3 linked regions of the Homo sapiens genome follow. The protein of the gene in region 2 purifies or fractionates together with the protein of the main gene of each other region. This does not show direct contact. Each region holds a gene or a part of one and is shown on either strand. Other genes may lie near its edges.

What was found.
Region 1: the proteins of ANKRD26 (region 2) and HIP1R fractionate together in Homo sapiens (co-fractionation; one large-scale study listed by BioGRID). This does not show direct contact.
Region 3: the proteins of ANKRD26 (region 2) and GOLGA4 fractionate together in Homo sapiens (co-fractionation; one large-scale study listed by BioGRID). This does not show direct contact.

Annotation. Positions count from the first base shown.
Region 1 is NC_000012.12:122,852,450-122,856,098, forward strand, and holds part of HIP1R (huntingtin-interacting protein 1-related protein), read left to right. Parts: intron 1-1,593; coding exon 1,594-1,734; intron 1,735-2,455; coding exon 2,456-2,513; intron 2,514-2,603; coding exon 2,604-2,679; intron 2,680-2,815; coding exon 2,816-2,956; intron 2,957-3,101; coding exon 3,102-3,163; intron 3,164-3,381; coding exon 3,382-3,454; intron 3,455-3,530; coding exon 3,531-3,649. UniProt on the Homo sapiens protein: Component of clathrin-coated pits and vesicles, that may link the endocytic machinery to the actin cytoskeleton. Binds 3-phosphoinositides (via ENTH domain).
Region 2 is NC_000010.11:27,093,849-27,097,497, reverse strand, and holds part of ANKRD26 (ankyrin repeat domain-containing protein 26), read left to right. Parts: intron 1-3,649. UniProt on the Homo sapiens protein: Acts as a regulator of adipogenesis. Involved in the regulation of the feeding behavior.
Region 3 is NC_000003.12:37,323,186-37,326,834, forward strand, and holds part of GOLGA4 (golgin subfamily A member 4), read left to right. Parts: intron 1-402; coding exon 403-3,649. UniProt on the Homo sapiens protein: Involved in vesicular trafficking at the Golgi apparatus level. May play a role in delivery of transport vesicles containing GPI-linked proteins from the trans-Golgi network through its interaction with MACF1. Involved in endosome-to-Golgi trafficking.

The sequences.
Region 1 (3,649 bases), on a different chromosome or scaffold from region 2:
AGTTACCCCTGGCATGGGAGAAGGCCAGTGTGGGCAGGCAGTGGCCCCACGAGGGAAGTGGAGAACACTCACAGGCACGCTTCCCACCTGGTGACGCTGGTGTGTTGATGAAGCACAAATGGGGTGTACCAGCATCTGCTGGAGAAATTCCCAGATCTGCAGAGGTGACAGGTACAGGGGCTTCCCTGCCTCAGGACCTGTAACAGCAAAGAAACACAAACGTCCTAAACATGCCTCAGCAGAGGCTGCGTCTCGCTGTCTGTGCAGAGCAGAGAACGGAGGGTGGTGGGAAGAGAGATGTGTCGAATCTGGGATGGCCGGGAAGATCTAGAAAACATTCTACTGTGTGAAATCAAGCAGATTGCCGAACAGCATGGACATACGTGTTGAAGATCCAAGCAGTACTTTATGTGTGCTGTAATTTTTTGCAAGGAAAACATACTTAGCATGACATGTAATTAGAGATTACTTTTTTAAAAAGGCAAGGGGCGGCACTTTGTGTCTTCCTTCTTGCCCCTCCCCCCCAGGCTCTCTCCTGTCACTGCAGAGATTTGCAAGTGGTCCCATCACAGGCAAGGCAGGAGCAGGACCTGAGGGGCCAGGGCACAGGTCTGTGCAGCGGGGGCTGTCTGGCCGCTCTCCCGTGCTGGCCAGCTGCCTGCTCTTTGTCATTCTCTCTGCCCCAGAGAAGCTGCCAGCCAAGGAGGAGGCAGCCTCATGTTTGTCCTTTGTCCCTCCCACTTGGTAGTTCTGATACAAGGCCCGATTGTCAGGGGCAGGGGAGACGGGCCCTGGGGGTGTCAGGGGCAGGGGAGACGGGCCCTGGGGGTGTCAGGGGCAGGGGAGACGGGCCCTGGGGGTGTCAGGGGCAGGGGAGACGGGCCCTGGGGGTGTCAGGGGCAGGGGAGACGGGCCCTGGGGGTGTCAGGGGCAGGGGAGACGGGCCCTGGGGGTGTCAGGGGCAGGGGAGACGGGCCCTGGGGGTGTCAGGGGCAGGGGAGACGGGCCCTGGGGGTGTCAGGGGCAGGGGAGACGGGCCCTGGGGGTGTCAGGGGCAGGGGAGACGGGCCCTGGGGGTGTCAGGGGCAGGGGAGATGGGCCCTGGGGGCAAGCGAGGTTTCAGGGTCACTTGGGGTGTGCAGAGCCAAGCTGTGACCCTAGTGCCGTGTTACTTGGCAGAAGCCCTGCCTGTTCCCACATCTGTAAAGTTAGGCATTTGGGGTGCTCCATCGTGAGCCTCCTTCCTGCTCTAACATTCAGCGTGGGTTTGAGGCCCGTGGGCATGGAGCTATCCGTCACCCTTGTCAGTCGGGCACCTCGTCCTGGGCTCCCAGGTGGAGGTCTCTGGAAGCCCTTGCTGAGCTGGGCTGGGAGCTCCTTTGCCCTGACCTTGTTGTTGCCGTTGACCTCCTTCATGGGAGCATCTGGTCTTGACCTGGGGCAGCCACCAGCACATGAGGCTCCCGTCTTGGAGGCAGGGGGCACACTGGTGTGTGGGAGCTGGCTTAGGGCCCTGCTTCACAGTTGGACCACCTTGGACAGGTTGCCCAGCTCCCAAGGGCTCACGTTCTTCCTCCTGCCCCTTTTGCACAGTTTTCCGACAGCTCAACACGGCCATCGCCGTATCCCAGATGTCCTCAGGCCAGTGCCGCCTGGCCCCCCTCATCCAGGTCATCCAGGACTGCAGCCACCTCTACCACTACACGGTCAAGCTCCTGTTCAAGCTACACTCTTGTGAGTGGCCCAGGGCAACCCCTGGCCCGGAAGGCTGTGTTTATATGGCTTAGACATTCACTGTCAAAAAGGAAAATCGAAAAATTAGAGGTTTATTCATTTAAAAATGGCAGTAATAAACCCACTGCCCATTAATAGAAATAACATATATTTTATGAAAAAAAAAAAAAAAAAACCCACTACTTTACCAAGCAAAAAACTTAGTGAGTGGCTTGGTTTTCATTTTTACGACTAAATGCCTGGCTCGGCCAAGACGGAGGCCCCAGCTGCTCCCAGGAATCTCCCGCCAGGCACCCTGGGGGTGCAAGCGCAAAAAGGCAAAAGGTGTCTGGGGTGTTAGGAGAGTTTTGATCTAACCAACCCCTTGAAAGGGTCTCGTCCCTCGACCGCACTTTGAGAACCACTGTGTTAGTGTCAGCCTGGGACCAACGTGTTTGGTGAAAGCGGCTTGCTAGTGCCTCCCGAAGCCAGGTGTGGGTTAGGTGAGATGTGGCCGCAGCGCCTTCCTTTCCATTCGCTGTTTCCTTCTCTAGCTCAGTCTGAACTGAGCCCTCCCACAGCGTCTCCCACAGGTCTCCCCATCCCGATGGGAGAGCGGGCCTGGCCCGGTCTCAGGTGATCTCTGATCTGTGAGTTTGTAGCATACGGAGGAACAAGGCAGGGCAGGTGAGCCCCTGAGCAGTGTGCAGAGAAGTCCTGTTACACTTGTGCCACCCTCCAGGTCTCCCTGCGGACACCCTGCAAGGCCACAGGGACCGGTTCCACGAGCAGTTTCACAGGTACTGCCTGGGACAGGGACAGGATTGAGGCCGGTGGGGGAGAGGCTCCGTGGCCCCTTCCTGAACCCGAACTTCCCACCATCTCTGCAGCCTCAGGAACTTCTTCCGCAGAGCCTCCGACATGCTGTACTTCAAGCGGCTCATCCAGATCCCCCGGCTGCCCGAGGTACCACCCCCAAGAGGGCCCCGAGGCCCTTTGAGGACCCCAGGCACCTGGCTGGGCCCCACACAGGCTATGGAGATGGCGGAAGGAGGGCTTGCTTAGGGGACAGCTGAGCAGGTCCCACCTGCCGCCCCTGCAGGGACCCCCTAACTTCCTGCGGGCCTCAGCCCTGGCTGAGCACATCAAGCCGGTGGTGGTGATCCCCGAGGAGGCCCCGGAAGATGAGGAGCCGGAGAATCTCATTGAGATCAGCACAGGGCCCCCCGCGGGGGAGCCAGTGGTGAGCCCCCTGCCCAGCCCGTGTCCCCCAGTCCTCCAGCTGCAGCATGAGGCCAACGGGAGTGTCGGGTGGCCAGCCCTCCCTTTGCCCACTGCCCGGCCTGGAGGGCACAGGTGAGTGGGGTCACCATGCTTTGCTGTGGCAGGTGGTGGCTGACCTCTTCGATCAGACGTTTGGACCCCCCAATGGGTCTGTGAAGGACGACAGGTGAGGGCTGGAGGAGCCGACTGGGCTGGGGGTGGTTGGAAACGGGCTCAGCTGAGCTGTGCTCTGGACAGTTCTGTCTGGAAAGGCCATAGGTGGGGAACATGAACCCGTGAGGTGCCCAAATCCTGAGTGGCCACTGAGGAGGAGACAGGTTCCTGTGCTGGGTCTGTTGACTGTTCTGGTTGACTTAACTTGAACCCCAGGACCTCTGTCCCCAGGGACCTCCAGATTGAGAGCTTGAAGAGAGAGGTGGAAATGCTCCGCTCTGAACTGGAGAAGATCAAGCTGGAGGTGCGGGGTGGGGATGGGTGGGGGCCAGGGCCCCTCACGGCCCAGGCAGGGCCCCACGTCACACCTCCTCCCGCAGGCCCAGCGGTACATCGCGCAGCTGAAGAGCCAGGTGAATGCACTGGAGGGTGAGCTGGAGGAGCAGCGGAAGCAGAAGCAGAAGGCCCTGGTGGATAATGAGCAGCTCCGCCACGAGCT
Region 2 (3,649 bases):
CAGACATAGTCTACTATCTCTTTTTTCTTTTTTTCTTAGACAGAGTCTCCCTCTGTTGCCCAGGCTGGAGTGCAGTGGCCAGATCTCAGCTTTACTGCAACCTCTGCTTCCTGGGTTCAAGCGATTCTCCTGCCTCAGTCTCCTGAGTAGCTGGGACAGCTAATTTTTTTTTTTTTTTGTATTTCTAGTAGAGACAGGGTTTCACTGTGTTAGCCAGGGTGGTCTCGATCTCCTGACCTTGTGATCTGCCCACCTCGGCCTCCCAAAGTGCTGAGATTACAGGCTTGAGCCACCGCGCCTGGCCTTTTTTGTTTTTGAGGTGAAGTCTCGCTTCTTCGCCCAGGCTGGAGTGCAATGGTGTGATCTCGGCTCAATGCAACATCCATCTCCTGGGTTCAAGCAATTCTCCTGCCTCAGCCTCCCTAGTAGCTGAGATTCCAGGCACGTGCCACCATGCCTGGCTAATTTTTGTATTTTTAGTATAGATGGGGTTCTACCCTGTTGGCCAGGCTGGTCTCAAACTCCTAACCTCAAGTGATCTGCCTGCCTTGGCCTCCCAAAGTGTTGGGATTACAGGCGTGAACCACCGCTAGTTATAAGCATATTAATGTAAGTGCGTAGTATTTTAATAAAATGTGGTAGAATATAGACTTGATCTTTGAATTGGAAACATAACAGTAGTGGACATGAAGATTTGCAGAGCTGATTTTTTTTTCTTTTTTTTTTTTTTTTGAGATGGAGTCTCGCTCTGTCTCCTGGGCTGGAGTGAGTTGGCATGATCTTGGCTCACTGTAACCTTCTCCTCCCAGGTTCAAGCAATTCTCGTGCCTCAGCCTCCCAAACAGCTGGGATTCCAGGCACCCACCACCATGCCTGGCTATTTTTTTTGTATTTTTAGTAGAGACGGGGTTTCACCACGTTGGCCAAGTTGGTCTCAAACTCCTGACCTCAGGTGATCTGCCTGCCTCAGCCTCCCAAAGTGCTGGGATTACAGGCATGAGCCACTGCACCAGGCCAGAGTTGATATCTTTGAAGTGAGGATTTTACTTCTATGCAAATTCTTTTCTGTCAGAGGTGAATCCCTATTTTAGTCATGAATATGATATTTATTCCCCTTTCACAACAGGAACTTCATATATATGTATATAAGTGCTGTGTGGTGTTCTAAACTATTTCAGTCTTGCATTAGCATTGTAATACATAATGTAGCTAATCTGCTATGAATTTGGGAATGCATTTTATGACAAATTTACAGAGCTGTCAGGGAAGATGGAAAGTTGCTGATTTCTCATATAAAACTGTCTTCATAGAGCTTGATGTGAATCTCCTGCACTTCTGGAAGCAGGTATTTAACTCATCCCCAGGAAATCAAGCCTGAGAGAAGTTCTGGTGAGCTGCTTGGCTCCTGTGTTGAGACTGGTCTGGTCTCTTAGCATTTGTTTTGGCAAAGAATGTTTGGATGTTTATAGAGGACAGATGAGAGCTCTGGTCAAGTATGAGAGCTGTTGGTGGGAGGGAGAATCCATTTGGGATCCCATATGAAAAGTCCTGTTAAGGGTGTGAGCAGGCCTTAGAAGAGGGTAATCCAAAGTGGATCTGTGGATTCCTTAGGAGCTAAGAGGAAAGAAAGGCCAGAGTGGAGTGCATTCATTCAGGTCAAGGCAATTGCAGGTGAAAACATAGTCTACTATCTCTCAGGACCTTTCCATCTTCAAAACCTTTATGTTTGCATACCTGCCCAGCCTGAGCAAGTTGAGAGATTTAAAATTAGACTATTAGGGCAATCTCAATTGAAGCTTTTCCTCCCTCCTCTTATTTATTTATTTTTTTGAGAGGAGATTATGCTCTGACACCCAGGCTGGAGTAAAGTGGCATGATCTCGGCTTACTCCAACTCTGCCACCAGGGTTCAAGTGATTCTCCTGCCTCAGCCCCCTCGAGTAGCTGGGATTACAGGCATGTACCACCATGTCCGGCTACTTTTTGTATTTTTAGCAGAGATGGGGTTTTACCATGTTGGTCAGGCTGATCTTGAATTCCTGACCTCAAGTGATCTGCCTGCCTTGGCTTCCCAAAGTGTTGGGATTACAGGCGTGAGCCACTGCACCCAACCCCTCTTTATAAACAAAAGTGTTTCTGAAGGTAGAAAATTATAAGAAATAACCTTTAATTACCCTTTTGAAAATTTATGTCTTAAACACGAATATTAGTCATTGGAAATATCTGCATATATTCTATAAATCTAAATATTGAATAAAATGAGCCAACCTATTCATTTGAATCCTGAGTTTCTTTTGTGTTGAAGTTTCTTGAAAACACAATAAGAATTACTTTGTTTTAAAAATCTGTTTTTCAATTTTAAAAATGCTTCCAATTATAGTTGTAATAAATCATGAATTACAAGTGGCATTCCAATGTCAGAGATATTGAAATGTGAGAAAATGAGCATCTTAGAATCACTGAAATACTGTGTTATCTCTAATTTTTTTTTTTTTTTTGTAGACAGGGTCTCTCTCTGTTGCCCAGGCTAGAGTACAGTGGCACAATCACAGCTCACTACAGCCTCAACCTCCTGGGCTCAAGCGATTCTTTGGCCTTAGCCTCCTGAGTAGCTGGGACCACAGGTGTTCACCACCATGCCTGGCTACTTTTTAAATTTTTATAGAGATGGAGTCTCACTATGTTGCCCAGGCTGGTCTCAAACTCTTGGACTCAAGCAGTCATCCTACCTCAGCTTCCCAAAGTTCTGGGATTCAGGCATGAGCCGCCATGCCTGGCCTTATCGCTGATCTTTAAAACATACTGTCAACTAGGTATAATTGTATCATTTCATTTAATTAAAACATCTTTATTAAACAGTAGTAATGGTAATTATATCTAACAATTATTGAGCTGTTATTTGTGCTAGGAACTGTTCTAAACATTTTGCATAGATTCTCATGTAAGCATCCCAGTGGTGTCCTATGAGATAGCTACTATTTTGATCCCCATTTTATTGATGAGGAAACTGAGGCACTTACTAAGCCATAATGAGTAAGTGACAGCTTAAAGTAGGATTCAACCCCAAGTTGAACTGAATCTAAAGGTCAAGCCTTTTCTATTCAGATAGGTTGCTCTTTCATTAATGTGGTGAGTAGTAAGAGCTAATAAATATTGTACTGTTTTCAGAAGAAAATTAAATACTTGTTTTGAAGGCGGAGGATTAACATGTGTATTAGTCTGTTCTCATGCTGCTAATAAAGACATACCCTTTATTATATGGGTAATTTATAAAGGAAAGAGGTTTAATTAACTCACAGTTCAGCCTGGTTGGGGAGGCCTCAGGAAACTTAACAATAAGGGCAGAAGGAGAAGCAAACATGTCCTTGACATGGTGTCAGCAAGGAGAAGTGCCAAGCAAAAGAGGGAAAAGCCCCTTAAGAAACCATCAGATATTGTGAGAACTCACTATCACAAGAGCAGCAGCACGGGGGAACCATCCTCGTGATTCAGTTACCTCCCACTGAGTCCCCCTCACCACACGTAGGGATCATGGGAACTACAATTTGGGATTTGGTTGGGGACACAGCCAAGATGAGATTTGGGTGGGGACACAGCCAAACCATATCAACATGCTATTTAATGTTTATAATTTTATGAACCATTGTATG
Region 3 (3,649 bases), on a different chromosome or scaffold from region 2:
GCATGATCTCGGCTCACTGCAGCCTCTGCCTCCTGGGTTCAAGGGATTCCCCAACCTCAGCCTCCCGAGTAGCTGGGACTACAGCCGCATGCTACCATGCCCGGCTAATTTTTGTATGTTTTGGTAGAGACAGGGCTTTGCCATGTTGGTCAGGCTGGGTCTCAAACTCCCGGCTTCAAGTGATCTGCTCACCTCGGCCTCCCAAACTGTTGGACTGTGCCTTGCCATAATCTTTTCTTTGTTATATGATTCCTTTAGTAATTGAGCATAGATTCTTTGTCTTTTCTAGTGTTTGGTATGATAATTTTGATCTTCAGGTAGGTGGTAGACATCATGTCTGTGTATCATTGTTAGTAGACAAGTACGTACTTTAATAAAAATGCATCTGTTTTTAATTAACAGAGAATTCTTGAATTGGAAAGTTCTTTGGAAAAAAGCTTACAAGAAAACAAAAATCAGTCAAAAGATTTGGCTGTTCATCTGGAAGCTGAAAAAAATAAGCACAATAAGGAGATTACAGTCATGGTTGAAAAACACAAGACAGAATTGGAAAGCCTTAAGCATCAGCAGGATGCCCTTTGGACTGAAAAACTCCAAGTCTTAAAGCAACAATATCAGACTGAAATGGAAAAACTTAGGGAAAAGTGTGAACAAGAAAAAGAAACATTGTTGAAAGACAAAGAGATTATCTTCCAGGCCCACATAGAAGAAATGAATGAAAAGACTTTAGAAAAGCTTGATGTGAAGCAAACAGAACTAGAATCATTATCTTCTGAACTGTCAGAAGTATTAAAAGCCCGTCACAAACTAGAAGAGGAACTTTCTGTTCTGAAAGATCAAACAGATAAAATGAAGCAGGAATTAGAGGCCAAGATGGATGAACAGAAAAATCATCACCAGCAGCAAGTTGACAGTATCATTAAAGAACACGAGGTATCTATCCAGAGGACTGAGAAGGCATTAAAAGATCAAATTAATCAACTTGAGCTTCTCTTGAAGGAAAGGGACAAGCATTTGAAAGAGCATCAGGCTCATGTAGAAAATTTAGAGGCAGATATTAAAAGGTCTGAAGGGGAACTCCAGCAGGCATCTGCTAAGCTGGACGTTTTTCAGTCTTACCAGAGTGCCACACATGAGCAGACAAAAGCATATGAGGAACAGTTGGCCCAATTGCAGCAGAAGTTGTTGGATTTGGAAACAGAAAGAATTCTTCTTACCAAACAGGTTGCTGAAGTTGAAGCACAAAAGAAAGATGTTTGTACTGAGTTAGATGCTCACAAAATCCAGGTGCAGGACTTAATGCAGCAACTTGAAAAACAAAATAGTGAAATGGAGCAAAAAGTAAAATCTTTAACCCAAGTCTATGAGTCCAAACTTGAAGATGGTAACAAAGAACAGGAACAGACAAAGCAAATCTTGGTGGAAAAGGAAAATATGATTTTACAAATGAGAGAAGGACAGAAGAAAGAAATTGAGATACTCACACAGAAATTGTCAGCCAAGGAGGACAGTATTCATATTTTGAATGAGGAATATGAAACCAAATTTAAAAACCAAGAAAAAAAGATGGAAAAAGTTAAGCAGAAAGCAAAGGAGATGCAAGAAACGTTAAAGAAAAAATTACTGGATCAGGAAGCCAAACTTAAGAAAGAGCTTGAAAATACTGCTCTAGAGCTTAGTCAGAAAGAAAAACAGTTTAATGCCAAAATGCTGGAAATGGCACAGGCTAACTCAGCTGGAATCAGTGATGCAGTGTCAAGACTGGAAACAAACCAAAAAGAACAAATAGAAAGTCTTACTGAGGTTCATCGACGAGAACTCAATGATGTCATATCAATCTGGGAAAAGAAACTTAATCAGCAAGCTGAAGAACTTCAGGAAATACATGAAATCCAATTACAGGAAAAAGAACAAGAGGTAGCAGAACTGAAACAAAAGATCCTCCTATTTGGGTGTGAAAAAGAAGAGATGAACAAGGAAATAACATGGCTGAAGGAAGAAGGTGTTAAGCAGGATACAACATTAAATGAATTACAGGAACAGTTAAAGCAGAAGTCTGCCCATGTGAATTCTCTTGCACAAGATGAAACTAAACTGAAAGCTCATCTTGAAAAGCTAGAGGTTGACTTGAATAAGTCTCTGAAGGAAAATACTTTTCTTCAAGAGCAGCTAGTTGAACTGAAGATGCTGGCAGAAGAAGATAAGCGGAAGGTTTCTGAGTTGACTAGCAAGTTGAAAACCACAGATGAAGAATTCCAGAGTTTGAAATCTTCACATGAAAAAAGTAACAAAAGCCTAGAGGACAAGAGCTTGGAATTTAAAAAACTGTCTGAGGAACTAGCGATTCAGCTAGATATTTGCTGTAAGAAAACCGAAGCCTTATTAGAAGCTAAAACAAATGAGCTAATCAACATTAGTAGTAGTAAAACTAATGCCATTCTTTCTAGGATTTCTCATTGTCAGCACCGTACAACTAAAGTTAAGGAGGCACTGTTAATTAAAACTTGCACAGTTTCTGAATTAGAAGCACAACTTAGACAGTTGACAGAGGAGCAAAATACACTAAATATTTCTTTTCAACAGGCTACTCATCAGTTAGAAGAAAAAGAAAATCAAATTAAGAGCATGAAGGCTGATATTGAAAGTCTTGTAACAGAAAAAGAAGCCTTACAGAAGGAAGGAGGCAATCAGCAACAGGCTGCTTCTGAAAAGGAGTCTTGTATAACACAGTTGAAGAAAGAGTTATCTGAAAACATCAATGCTGTCACATTGATGAAAGAAGAGCTTAAAGAAAAAAAAGTTGAGATTAGCAGTCTTAGTAAACAACTAACTGATTTGAATGTTCAGCTTCAAAATAGCATCAGCCTATCCGAAAAAGAAGCAGCCATTTCATCACTAAGAAAGCAGTATGATGAAGAAAAATGTGAATTGCTGGATCAGGTGCAAGATTTATCTTTTAAAGTTGACACTCTGAGTAAAGAGAAAATTTCTGCTCTTGAGCAGGTAGATGACTGGTCCAATAAATTCTCAGAATGGAAGAAGAAAGCACAGTCAAGATTTACACAGCATCAAAACACTGTTAAAGAATTGCAGATCCAGCTTGAGTTAAAATCAAAGGAAGCTTATGAAAAGGATGAGCAGATAAATTTATTGAAGGAAGAGCTTGATCAGCAAAATAAAAGATTTGATTGTTTAAAGGGTGAAATGGAAGACGACAAGAGCAAGATGGAGAAAAAGGAGTCTAATTTAGAAACAGAGTTAAAGTCTCAAACAGCAAGAATTATGGAATTAGAGGACCATATTACCCAGAAAACTATTGAAATAGAGTCCTTAAATGAAGTTCTTAAAAATTACAATCAACAAAAGGATATTGAACACAAAGAATTGGTTCAGAAACTTCAACATTTTCAAGAGTTAGGAGAAGAAAAGGACAACAGGGTTAAAGAAGCTGAAGAAAAAATCTTAACACTTGAAAACCAAGTTTATTCCATGAAAGCTGAACTTGAAACTAAGAAGAAAGAATTAGAACATGTGAATTTAAGTGTGAAAAGCAAAGAGGAGGAGTTAAAGGCATTGGAAGATAGGCTTGAGTCAGAAAGTGCTGCAAAATTAGCAGAGTTGAAGAGAAAAGCTGAACAAAAAATTGCTG